2 linked regions of the Homo sapiens genome follow. The protein of the gene in region 1 purifies or fractionates together with the protein of each later gene. This does not show direct contact. Each region holds a gene or a part of one and is shown on either strand. Other genes may lie near its edges.

Region 1 (2,898 bases):
GTTTTTGTTTTTTTGCTATTTATAAATACTGCGATTGAGTAGTATTGTAGAAATAAGTTAAGTTTGGGTCAACTGATTTTTTTTAAGGATGTGTTTCTTGAATCTCCTACCTTTCCTTTCAGTCCTTTCCTGATTCTTCTTCTGACTTCTTTCATCATCTTTTTCCTGCTTCCAAAATGTATGTATCACTGAAGCCTCAACTCCTATTCCTTTGCCTTTACCTACCGCTTCCTAATGTTCTCATGTATCCATACTGAGTCCCTGTTCCTTCCCTGTATTCTCGTCTCTCCACATGCCATACCTGAAAGATCATATCCAGAAGATAAACACTTTTCTTTCTTTCCTTTACCTATGTTCTCATTATTTTTAGCTGAAACCACCTGTTTTCAGAGCTTCAGGAAAAGACTTAATCTGAAGGATCCTGCAGCTAAAAAGCTTTGAAAACTGTGTTAAGGGGCCCCATAAGCATCGCTTCTAAACTTCACTGACAAAAGGGACTGGGGTCATGCTGTCTGGAGTCAGAGTGAGGTGGGGTTAAAAGCTCTATGTGGTTGTTTTGCATATTACTATCAAGCTTCTATTTTAGGCATGAGTTTTGGCCCTGGTAGATAAAACCATTTCTCTATCTAAAAGTTATTAAAACCTGTACTTATATATAGAAGTTAGTAATTTATATATAACATTTTGGTTTAAAAATCTCTGAGTTCTGGACCATCTGGGTCTCAAAAAAATGACCAGAGTATACACATTAATTTTGTTCTGTATTCTATTAAGTATTATGTGACATATAATTCTTATTCATATATTTATTTGGGGAAATGATTGAATTAGGCTTTTAAGAATAGTGGTGCTTGCTTTGTAAAGTTTCAAAATAGGTAACATTAAGGTTTTCTTTTCACTTTTTTTGCAGGGACAGAAAATGAAGCAGTGTTTTATCATGTGTATTTCAGCAGGTCTTCTTGAAATTTAACTAAAAATATGACTGCTCTCTCTTCAGAGAACTGCTCTTTTCAGTACCAGTTACGTCAAACAAACCAGCCCCTAGATGTTAACTATCTGCTATTCTTGATCATACTTGGGAAAATATTATTAAATATCCTTACACTAGGAATGAGAAGAAAAAACACCTGTCAAAATTTTATGGAATATTTTTGCATTTCACTAGCATTCGTTGATCTTTTACTTTTGGTAAACATTTCCATTATATTGTATTTCAGGGATTTTGTACTTTTAAGCATTAGGTTCACTAAATACCACATCTGCCTATTTACTCAAATTATTTCCTTTACTTATGGCTTTTTGCATTATCCAGTTTTCCTGACAGCTTGTATAGATTATTGCCTGAATTTCTCTAAAACAACCAAGCTTTCATTTAAGTGTCAAAAATTATTTTATTTCTTTACAGTAATTTTAATTTGGATTTCAGTCCTTGCTTATGTTTTGGGAGACCCAGCCATCTACCAAAGCCTGAAGGCACAGAATGCTTATTCTCGTCACTGTCCTTTCTATGTCAGCATTCAGAGTTACTGGCTGTCATTTTTCATGGTGATGATTTTATTTGTAGCTTTCATAACCTGTTGGGAAGAAGTTACTACTTTGGTACAGGCTATCAGGATAACTTCCTATATGAATGAAACTATCTTATATTTTCCTTTTTCATCCCACTCCAGTTATACTGTGAGATCTAAAAAAATATTCTTATCCAAGCTCATTGTCTGTTTTCTCAGTACCTGGTTACCATTTGTACTACTTCAGGTAATCATTGTTTTACTTAAAGTTCAGATTCCAGCATATATTGAGATGAATATTCCCTGGTTATACTTTGTCAATAGTTTTCTCATTGCTACAGTGTATTGGTTTAATTGTCACAAGCTTAATTTAAAAGACATTGGATTACCTTTGGATCCATTTGTCAACTGGAAGTGCTGCTTCATTCCACTTACAATTCCTAATCTTGAGCAAATTGAAAAGCCTATATCAATAATGATTTGTTAATATTATTAATTAAAAGTTACAGCTGTCATAAGATCATAATTTTATGAACAGAAAGAACTCAGGACATATTAAAAAATAAACTGAACTAAAACAACTTTTGCCCCCTGACTGATAGCATTTCAGAATGTGTCTTTTGAAGGGCTATGATACCAGTTATTAAATAGTGTTTTATTTTAAAAACAAAATAATTCCAAGAAGTTTTTATAGTTATTCAGGGACACTATATTACAAATATTACTTTGTTATTAACACAAAAAGTGATAAGAGTTAACATTTGGCTATACTGATGTTTGTGTTACTCAAAAAAACTACTGGATGCAAACTGTTATGTAAATCTGAGATTTCACTGACAACTTTAAGATATCAACCTAAACATTTTTATTAAATGTTCAAATGAAAGCAAGAAAGTAAAAATTGTTCTTAAAATGATTTGGCATAAAGTTCAATGTAAGAGGAAGAAGAAGATTACCTCATTTTAAATGTAGCTAATTAATTTTAAAAAGTATATCTCTGTTTTTAATGCAAATATTCCTGGAAGAAGAGGGTTTTGGTTGCTCACCTTATGGAACTGGGAGCAGTGACTAGGTCCCTTTCGATGATTCAGCAGATTCGTTTTCATATTATAAAACTTGTATGTCATCACATACTTGCATATCACATCATAATCACGTTAGCAATGATGTATCACACGTAAAAGTAGAATTTCTCATCCTCGGCACGCTTGACATTTGGGGTTGGTTAATTTTTTGTTGTGGGGCAGTTTAGCAGGATCCCTGCTCTCTGCCCACTGACTGATTGGTGGCACCTCCATGCCCAGTAGACACAATAAAAAATGTCTCCAGACATTGCCAAATCTCCCCCGGTGGATAGGCAGAGTTGCTTCACTGGAGTAAAACAATATGA
Region 2 (3,500 bases), on another chromosome or scaffold:
TGCATTAGTATGACACATTTGTTACAATTAAACAATGCTGATATATTATTAACCAAGATTGAATCATTTTACATTAGTATAATAATATATTTGTTATAATTAATAAACCAGTACCGATACTGGAGTCCATAGTTTTTTCAGATTCCCTTAGTTTTTACTTAATGTCTTTTTCTGTTCCAGGAAGCCATCCAGAATTCCACATTATATTTAGCTGTCATGTATCCTCTTGGGACTGTGACAGTTTCTCAAACTTTCCTTGTTTTTGATATAACTTTGACAGTTTGTTTGTTTTTTGAGACAGGGTCTTGCTCTGTCATCCAGGCCGTAGTGCAGTGAGTGGCACAATCATGGCTCACTGCAGCCTTGATCCCCCTGGTTCAAGTGATCCTCCTGCCTCAGCCCAAGTAGCTGGGACTACAGGCGCATACAACTGCGCCCAGCTAATTTTTTGAATTTATTATTTGTAGAGATGAGGTCTCACTGTGTTATCCAGGCTTGTCTCAAACGCTTGGGCTCAAACAAACAATTCTCCCATCTTGGCCTCCCAAAGAAAGTGCTAGAATTACAGGCATGAGCCACTGCTCCCAGCCAGTTTTTTGTTTTTTATTTTTTTATTTTTATTTTTTCTGTAGAGACAGGGTCCCCCTATGTTGCCCAGGCTGGTCTCAAACTCCTGGCCTCAAGCGATCCTCCTGCCTTGACCTCCCGAAGTGCTGGCATTACAGGTGTGAGCCACTGAGCCCAGCCAACCTTGACAGTTTTGAGGAGTGTTGGCCAGGTATAGCGTAGGATGACCCTGTATTGGAATTTATCTGATGTTTTCTCATGATTAGATTGGGATTATGGGTTTTGAGGGGCAATTCACAGAGGTAAAGTGCCATTTTCTTTCTTTTTTTTTTTTTTTTTTCTTGAAATGGAGTTTCACTCTTGTTACCCAGGCTGGACTGCAGTGGTGTGATCTCGGCTCACTGCAACCTCCGCCTCCCTGGTTCAAGCGATTCTCCTCCCTCAGCCTCCGAAGTAGCTGGGACTATAGGCATATGCCACCACCCTGGTTAATTTTTGTATTTTTAGTAGACACAGGGTTTCACTGTGTTGGCCAGGCTGGTCTTGAACTCCCGACCTCAGGTGATCCACCAGCCTCGGCCTCCCAAAGTGCTGGGATTACAGGTGTGAGCCACTGCGCCCAGCCAAAGTGCCATTTTCATCAGGTATTGAGGGCGCATAGTATCCACATGATTTATGACTGTCAGCGTTAACCTCGGTCCCCTGGCTGAAGCAGTGATTATCAGCTTTCTCCACTGTGAAGTTATTCTCTCATCCCTTTCTATACTGCACTGTACCTGTTATAAGGAGACTAATTAAATTTTTCACACACAAAAACTCAAACCCAGCATCCCAACGTAGCTTCCTTATGCCTCTTAAAATAGGTCTCAGACACTGCTGTGTTCAGAACCCTTCATTAGACTTGCCCAGGCCTGCCTCCCCAACTCTGCATCTGGAGCCTGCATCTGTTTATGCCTCTCCTCATGTTGCTGCTCGTCTCCTTGTGAATGTCTCCTCCCTTCCTTTCCAGCCATCTCAATCCTGCGTGTCTTTGAAGGTCCAGCCAGAAAGTTTTCTTCCCCTATGAAATCATCCTGGAGTAATCGAATCCATTTCTAAATTCTAAATGCTATTTGTTACTGACCTATGCTCCATCCTGCCCCTCTTCCAGGTAAATGAATGGCTGTTTGCTATAGGCAAAAACTGGGTTTTGTGATAAATCATTCAGATTTTACTTTTTTTTTTTTTTTTTTTTTTTTTTTGAGGCAGAGTCTCGCTCTGTCACCCAGGCTGGAGTGCAGTGGCATGATCTCAGCTCACTGCAACATCTGCCTCCTGGGTTCAAGCAATTCTCCTGCCTCAGCCTCCTGAGTAGCTAGAATTACAGGTGCATGCCATCACACCCGGCTAATTTTTGTATTTTTAGTAGCAACAGGGTTTTACCATGTTATCCAGGCAGGTCACGAACGCCTGACCTCAAGTGATCCACCTGCGTCGGACTCCCAAAGTGCTGGGATTACAGGCGTGAGCCACTGCACCCAACCCAGATTTGCCCTTTGTTTAAGAGCTAACAGAACACAGATAAAGAATCATATAACCAGTGCCTATTATATAAAATACCTTTCTTCTGAAAAGGTAAATTTTAGGAACAGAAAACACATATTAGGCCAGGTGCAGTGGCTCATGCCTGTAATCCCAGCACTTTGGGAAGCTGAGGCGGGCAGATCACCTGAGGTCAGGAGTTCAAGACCAGCCTGACCAACATGATGAAACCCCGTCTCTACTAAAAATACAAAATTAGTCGGATGTGGTGGTGCATGCCTATAATCCCAGCTACTTGGGAGGCTGAGGCAGGAGACTCGCTTGAACCCAGGAGGCGGAGACTGCAGTGAGCTGAGATCACACCATTGCACTCCAGCCTGGGCGACAAGAGTGAAACTCTATCTCGAAAAAAAAAAAAGAAAAGAAAAGAGAATGTATATTAGGCTGAGCATGATGGCTTATGCCTGTATTCCCAGCACTTTGGGAGACTGAGGTGGGCGGGTTGCTTGAGGCCAGGAGTTGGAGACCAGCCTGGCCAACATGGTGAAACCCTATCTTTACAATACAAAAATTAGCTGGACTTGGTGGTGCACGCGCCTGTGGTCCCAGCTACTTGGGAGGCTGAGGCATGAGAATTGCTTGAACCTGGGAGGTCGAGGTTGCAGTGAGCCGAGATTGCACCACTGTACTCCAGCCTGGGCGACAGAGCGATACTCTGTCTCAAAAAAAAAAAAAAAAAAAAAAAAAACATATTAATCACTGACTCCCAGTTGAGTTCTGCTTTTCTGTGTCTTATCACAAGTCCAAATGCAGTTGCTTCAGTAGTTTTTTGTTTGATGAGAAACTACTACAGTGAAAAGGACACAGATAGGGTACAGATGACAAGATCAGAGGCTCGGTCCAAGGTCTCTGAGATGACCCATGGGATGCAGTGAGGAATGGACCCTTTCTGGTGGCTCTGCCCTGTGAAGTGGATGTCATACTTTGGCATGGATTCCAGGATGAACTAAATACACAGAGGAGAGAGCTTTCTAGTTCAAACCAGACTGGCTGGCGGAAAGGTTTTAAGGATTACCTAAAATTCTCTCATTCCAGCCAGCTCACTTCTCTGGCCAGACTGAGCTCGTGTGGGAGATGTCAGTTCTGAAATGTTCTTCTTTTCGCTTAGGTTTGCTGGTTGGCTCCCGAGCAGACAGCAGGAAAGAAGAAGCCCTTCGTGTACACCCAGGGCCAGGCTGTCCTAAACCGGGCCTTCTTCCCTTGCTTCGACACGCCTGCTGTTAAATACAAGTATTCAGCTCTTATTGAGGTAAGGAGACTAAGGTTAGGTGCACCTGCCCTTGGGATGAAGAAATGATTTCAGATCTATCAATCAGGTCACGTTTCAGTGGTAAATTATTATATCCATTCAG

Evidence for each region. Proteins that work in one complex are often made in the same cells at the same time.
Region 2: the proteins of GPR160 (region 1) and RNPEP purify together in Homo sapiens (affinity purification with mass spectrometry; one large-scale study listed by BioGRID and IntAct). This does not show direct contact.

What each region holds. Positions count from the first base shown.
Region 1 is NC_000003.12:170,082,995-170,085,892, forward strand, and holds the end of GPR160 (probable G-protein coupled receptor 160), read left to right. Parts: intron 1-910; 5' UTR 911-978; coding exon 979-1,995; 3' UTR 1,996-2,398; downstream 2,399-2,898. UniProt on the Homo sapiens protein: Orphan receptor.
Region 2 is NC_000001.11:201,985,648-201,989,147, forward strand, and holds part of RNPEP (aminopeptidase B), read left to right. Parts: intron 1-3,256; coding exon 3,257-3,397; intron 3,398-3,500. UniProt on the Homo sapiens protein: Exopeptidase which selectively removes arginine and/or lysine residues from the N-terminus of several peptide substrates including Arg(0)-Leu-enkephalin, Arg(0)-Met-enkephalin and Arg(-1)-Lys(0)-somatostatin-14.